2 linked regions of the Homo sapiens genome follow. The protein of the gene in region 2 interacts with the protein of the main gene of each other region in a biochemical or structural test. Each region holds a gene or a part of one and is shown on either strand. Other genes may lie near its edges.

What was found.
Region 1: the proteins of UTP23 (region 2) and DDX52 form a complex in vitro, tested with the Homo sapiens proteins (one study listed by BioGRID).

Annotation. Positions count from the first base shown.
Region 1 is NC_000017.11:37,633,306-37,637,136, reverse strand, and holds part of DDX52 (probable ATP-dependent RNA helicase DDX52), read left to right. Parts: intron 1-3,718; coding exon 3,719-3,831.
Region 2 is NC_000008.11:116,769,468-116,772,628, forward strand, and holds part of UTP23 (rRNA-processing protein UTP23 homolog), read left to right. Parts: intron 1-724; coding exon 725-899; intron 900-1,988; coding exon 1,989-2,375; 3' UTR 2,376-3,161. UniProt on the Homo sapiens protein: Involved in rRNA-processing and ribosome biogenesis.

The sequences.
Region 1 (3,831 bases), on a different chromosome or scaffold from region 2:
AAAAATTAGCTGCACGTGGTAGCACATGTCTGTAGTCCCAGCTACTTGGGAGGCTGAGACAGGAGGATTGCTTTAGCCCAAGAGTGTGAGGTTACAGTGAGCTGTGATCATGCCTGTATACTCTAGCCTGGCTGACAGAACAAAACCCTATCTTGAAAAAAATATATATGTGGTGTAAGCCAAACCATATATATATATTTGGGATTACAAGCATGAGCTTGTAATTGGTTATATACACTCAGATGTCTGTGGTGTTGGCTATTGTTTCTGCTGTTAATCAACAGTCCTCTTCAATTAGGGCATGAACAAGATGAATTTTTTCCTTATAAATTGATGCGGGTGGTCTGCTGCTACAGACTTCCATCTTCAATATTATCTTGTTCCTTCTTAAAACAAGTTATCCATTTGTAAACAGGTGATTTCTTTGTCCCCATAAACTTTTCATAAAGCATCAGTGATTTCACTATTCTTCTACCGAAGCTTCACTGTAAATTTGGAGTTTGTTCTTGCTTCAGTTTTAAGCAGAATTCATGTTGCTGTTTTCAAACTGCTGTCTTATCCTTCTTAGTGTCTCAGACTAGATCTAGTTCACCCGTATTGTAACAAGTTGGTATGAGTTTATTTTGGTGCAAAAAATTTTGAAATTTTTGCATAGTTTCTTCATAATACGGATTTTCCATGAACTTTTTGAAGACCCCCTTATATATAGATCAGTGAAACAGAACAGCTAGTCCACAAACCCATGCATATATGGTCAATTAGTTCTCAACAGAGGTAATAAGGTAATTCAGCGGGGAAAAGAAAGTCTTTTCGACAAACGGACTGGATCCATGGGGAAAAAAGTGAACATCAAACCTAACTTTATATTGTAAGCAAAAATTAACTTCAAATGACTCAGACTGAAGTTTTAAAACTATAAAAGTTCCAGAAGAAAACAGGAAAAAAATCTTTGTGGCCTTGAGATATGTCAAGGTTCCTTAGCACAACAACAACAAAATTCTTTAAAAAGAAAAAATTGATATATTGGACTTATCGAAACTAAAAATTTTCATTCTTCAAAAGATAACATTAAGAAAATGAAAAGGCAAGCCACAGATGGGAAAATATTTGCAAAATGTATATCAAAGGACTTGTATCTACTCACTAAAGAAGATAATACACATGGTGATAAGCACATAAAAGATACTCAACATCAGTAGCCATCAGGCAAATTAAAACCACAATACAGTACTACTACATACCCATTAGAATGGCTAAAAATAAAAAAGAGTGACCATACCAAGTATGGGCAAGGATGTACAGAAACAAGCTCTCACAGTGTTGATGGTAAAATGGTACAACCACTTTGGAAAATAGTTTGGGACTTTTTTTTTAAGTTAAACATATATTTACCATATTACCCAGCTATTCCACTTGGAATATTTACCTAAGAGACAGGAAAATATACATCTTCAGGAAGACTTGTACACAAATTTTCATAGCAACATTGCTTATAGCCAAAAGCTGGAAATGACCCAAATGTCCCTCATCAGGTGAATGATGAACTGTACATCCATTACAATGGAATACTACCTAGTAATAAAACGGTAAGTTGTTGATACATGGTGCAACATAGGTGAATTTCAAAACAACTATCTTGAGTGAAAGAAGCCAGACAAAAATTAGTACATATGACATGATTCCGTTTATATAAAATTCCAGAAAAGGCAAACTAGTCTATAGTGGCAGAAATTAGATTGGTGGTTGCCTATGCATGGAGTGATGGATTATAAGGTGTCATGAGGAAATCTGGAGAAGTGATAGAAATAACCTTGAATGTGGTGATAGTTTTTTGGGTGTGTAGATATGTCAAAACTCAGCAAATTAGATACTTTAAATATATGCAGATTATTGTATATATTTATGCCTCAGTGAAGTTGAAAAAATTAAGAAATTAGAACTAGTCTTTGCTAGTTTTAGAACTAATTTAGAAATTAGAACTAGTCTTTGCTTTGTAGAACTAGTCTTTGCTTGTTAAACTTAAAATGTTTTTAGGTTAGGCCAGGCGCGGTGGCTCACACCTGTAATCCCAAAACTTTGGGAGGCTGAGGCGGGCGGATCACGAGGTCAGGAGTTTGAGACCAGCCTGGCCAACGTGGTGAAACCCCGTCTCTACTAAAAATACAAAAATTAGCTGGACATGGTGGCATGCCTCTGTAGTCCCAGCTACTCGGGAGGCTGATAATCACCTGGGAGACAGAGGTTGCAGTGAGCCAAGATCATGCCACTGCACTCCAGCCTGGGTGACAGAGCAAGACTCCATCTCAAAAAAAAAAAAAAATTTAGGTTAGTCTTACATATTTATTCTCCCATACAAACTGTTAAGTCAGCTGATCTAGTCACCAAAACAATTCTGCCATTACTTTTAATTGGCTAGTGTTCTTCATAGATTGAGGGAGAAAGGCTATCTTTATAATACTGAGTAGTTCAAAGTATTGTGTTATGTTCATTGCTATTTATTTATTTAGAGACAGAGTCTTGCTCTGTTGCCGAGGCTGGAGTGCAGTGGCACAATCTTGGCTCACTGCAACCCCCACCTCCTGGCTTCAGGTGATTCTCCTGCCTCAGCCTCCTGAGTAACTAGGATTACAGGCACCTGCCATCATGCCTGGCTAATTTGTGTATTTTTGTAGGGACAGGGTTTCATCATGTTGTCCAGGCTGGTCTTAAACTCCTGACCTCAGGTGATCCACCCACCTTGGCCTCCCAAAGTGCTGGGATTACAGGCATGAGCCACCGCACCTGGCCGTTCATTGCTATTTTAAGTGAGATCTTTCATTATATTTATTTTTTAGTTGTTGGTTGTTTACATATAGAGAACGTGGCTGCCTTATTGAAATTTCTCATTTGGCTGGGCACGGTGGCTCACGCCTGTAATCCCAGCACTGTGAGAGGCCGAGGCGGGCGGATCACTTGAGGTCAGGTGTTTGAGACCAGCCTGGCCAAGATGGTGAAACCTCGTCTCTACTAAAAATACAAAACAAAATTAGCCGGGCATGGTGGCGGATTCCTGTAATCCCAGCTACTTGGGAGGCTGAGGCAGAGAATTTCTTGAACCAGGGAGGCAGCAGTTGCAGTGAGCCGAGATCGCACCACTGCACTTCAGCCTGGGCGACAGAGCAAGACTCTGTCTCAAACAAAAAAAAAAAAAAAAAAAGGAAAGAAATTTATCATTGTTTAAGTTGCTTTTCAATTAATCCCCTGTTGTTTTCAAGTATACTAAGTACACTGCTGAAACAGCCAACAAAGGGAAGATAGTAAGCTTCAGAACTCTGATCATACCAACACAGAACTTGCCTTTTCATTTCCATTTTTATACATCCTATTACTTTCTCTTATCTAGTTGGATCAGCTGTACTTTTTCCTTTTTTAGTGTGAAGGTATGGCTTTCTTGCTACACATACATCCAAGATTAAAACCTTTTTTCTTTTTTTTTTTTTTTGAGACAAGGTTTTTCTCTGTTACCCAGGCTGGAATGCAGTGGCATGATCACAGCTGTCTGCAGCCTCAACCTCCCAGGCTCAAATGATCCTCCCCACTCAGCCTCCTAAGTAGCTGGGACTACAGGCTTGCACCACCACCCACCCTTGACTAATTTTTAATTTTTTTTTGAAGAGACGGGTCCTCACTATGTTGCCTAGACTGTTAAAATCTTTTACTTTTTAAAAATATATTTTAGAAATTGCTTCCCAAGAAGAAGGTGCTACTATACAGTGGATGTCATCTGTAGAAGCAAAGATTGAAGACAAAAAAGTTCAGAGAGAAAGTAAACTAACTTCCGGAAAGTTGGAG
Region 2 (3,161 bases):
ATAAATTTGGATACAGGAAAGTGGTTTGATCTTAGACATGGTGAATTTGAAGAGTTGATAGCAGGACATCCACAGGCTGGCAGTACTCAAAATAGAGGTCAAGTCTAATGACTAAAGCAAGCAAAATCTTCTTGAAACAGAAAGATGATAAAGGAGATGAAGCAAGAAAGAATCTGGCAAATGCTGGCTAGGGTTGAGGAACTCTTATGACTAAATGTTTTTTTAAAAACAACTTGATGATGTGAGAAGTTTTACTGTTCTGAATTGAAAATGTTTTGAAAGTATACCAATTTGTACTTGAAGCAGAAGCTTATTACGCTATGGTTGGGACAAGGGAGCTGTTGTCAAACTGCAAGTCTCGGTACCACTTGCTAGTTACTTGAACTTTGGCATGTTACTTGAAATCTCAGAATGGGGTGCTCTAAAATAAGGATAATTTCAAGGTAAGCGACCTAACTTCATAGGGTTACTTTGAGATTAATCAAGAATTTATGTAAAGAGCAATTTGCATACTACATGGAACATAATAAGTGCTCAGTTAATTTTAACTGTTGTTCTTCCTACTTGGTAAATGCATTTTTCAAGTGATCTTTTAAAGTAAATGGTTACCAGATGACAAATTTAGATTGTAACAGCATAGTTTTATTTTAAGAAAAAATCGACTATTGTTTTTTACACCTTATGTAAACAAGTGAAATGTATCTGCTATAATTTTTCTTTTCAGATGTGTGTTAAAAGAGCTAGAAACATTGGGAAAGGACTTATATGGGGCAAAACTGATTGCACAAAAATGCCAAGTTCGAAATTGTCCTCATTTCAAGAATGCAGTGAGTGGATCAGAATGTCTGCTTTCCATGGTTGAAGAGGGAAATCCTCATCATTATTTTGTGGCAACACAGGTGATACTACTTTTAAAACCACAGGCAATTTTCACCATTTCTATTTATACTTCATATGGAGCTATTTATAATCAGAAAAAAGTTAGAATGATTAGACTTTTAAAAATACAGGCTTCTAAGTTAATTTGCAGTCAGTAAAAGCAATTGTCATTTGAGAATTTGAGGAAAACTTTAAGCATGTTGATATTCTTTTTAGTAGTGGAAGGTTGGGTTTTGTTTTTTTTAATGATTCCTTTGTTTTGCTTTTTTTGTTTGTTTCTTGAGACTTGAGGGTCTCACTATATTGCCTAGGCTGGTCTCGAACCCCTAGGCTAAAGTGATCCTTCCACCTCAGCTCCTGAGTACCTGGGATTACAGGTGTTTGCCATCATGCTGGACACTGGCAGAAGTTTCTTTTTTTAAAACAAGAAATTGTTGACATGAGATGTGATGATTTGTTGTAGGGTTCTTGAAGGGAAGATAAGTAGAGCAAAGTGCCTGTATTCTGTTAATTTTTTTCATGTTCCTGTATTTCATACTGTTTCTCAAAGTCATGGTTCATACTGCTTAAGACTGTACCAACAGTATGAAATATTTCAGGCTTTTGAAGAAAAATATTCCCATCTTCTTGAAGGCAGGAGAAGAGAGACTTTTGGGGGTGATATTAAGTTCACATACATACAGATTTGATTATCAGAATTATAAAATTACACAGAGGTAGAGCTGAATTTAGAATCTGAGTAGCTAATTACTACCCAGTTTCTTTTCCTTTAACCTCTTTAAGCATTCTTGACCCTTTCCAAAGAATATCTTAGAGTGGAAACAGGAGAAACCCACCTAACACATTTACCTTTGCATTAGTTTGTAATTTGTGGCTCTAGAGTATCGATAAATCCGGTTCACACAGCTGCTACTAACACTGTGCTCAGTTTTTATGTTTTTCTTCCTTTATCATGAAATATACCCCCATTACTCAAATGAATAAGTGAGGCTTACTCATTTGAAAAATAAAATCTGTGATCTCTTTTATTTTTAATACAGTTCTTGAAAACCTATTTAAGGTACCTTAATTGACATTTGAACTAAATAATTCTGTTTTCTTTTAAATAGGATCAGAATTTGTCTGTGAAAGTAAAAAAGAAGCCTGGAGTTCCTCTCATGTTTATTATTCAGAACACTATGGTTTTGGACAAACCTTCTCCCAAAACAATTGCCTTTGTAAAAGCAGTGGAGTCAGGTCAGCTTGTCTCAGTGCATGAGAAAGAAAGTATCAAACATCTCAAAGAGGAACAGGGTTTAGTGAAAAACACTGAACAGAGTAGAAGAAAAAAGCGCAAGAAAATAAGTGGTCCCAATCCTCTTAGTTGTTTGAAGAAAAAGAAAAAGGCACCGGACACACAATCATCTGCTTCTGAAAAGAAAAGAAAAAGAAAAAGAATTCGGAACAGATCTAACCCAAAAGTACTTTCTGAGAAGCAGAATGCAGAAGGAGAATGAATCCTTTGGATACTTTCAAGGACATTCAAATGTGAAAATGAATTTTTTACAACTAGAAGTATTTATAATAAAAGACCAAACTTATTTTTGTAAATGAACCCATATGCTTTAGCTAAAATTAATTATAAAATAAAAACAGTGACCAGTCTAGCCAGCATGGCAAAACCCCATCTCTACTAAAATACAAAAATTAGCTGGGCATGATGGTGCACAGTTGTAATTCCAGCTACTCAGGAGGCTGAGGCATGAGAATCGCTTGAACCTGGGAGGCAGAGATTGCAGTGAGCCCAGTTCGTGTCACTTCACTCCAGCCTGGGCAACAGAGTGAGAACATGTCTCAAAAAAAAAATAAAAACAGTGAATGGGTGTAGGTGTGATGGAATTCACTTTACTTACTAAATGGTTTCGGGAGGTTGTTTCTCCAGGTAAAATTGTCGCCTCTCTGGTCCCATTCCCACCTTCAAACATTATATGCAAACAGTTTTAAAAAATCTTACAGTTCTAAAAGGCTTGTGACAAAAAAAGAGGCAGTCCCTCTTTCACATTGACAGAAGAAACTTCCTCTTTCAATTCTAGTAGTTGAAGAATTTATATTTCCAAATTGTATGATTATACCGCTACTTTTTGATACATCAATTATTTATTGACTTCCTACTAGAAAGAGTGAAATTTTGCCCATTTATACTGCACCATTTTTCCAGTATATGAATATTTTACTCTTTGTACATCAGAAACTCAGTATTTTCATTATTATGACTAGAGTTTTTTTGTTTGTTTGTTTGAGTT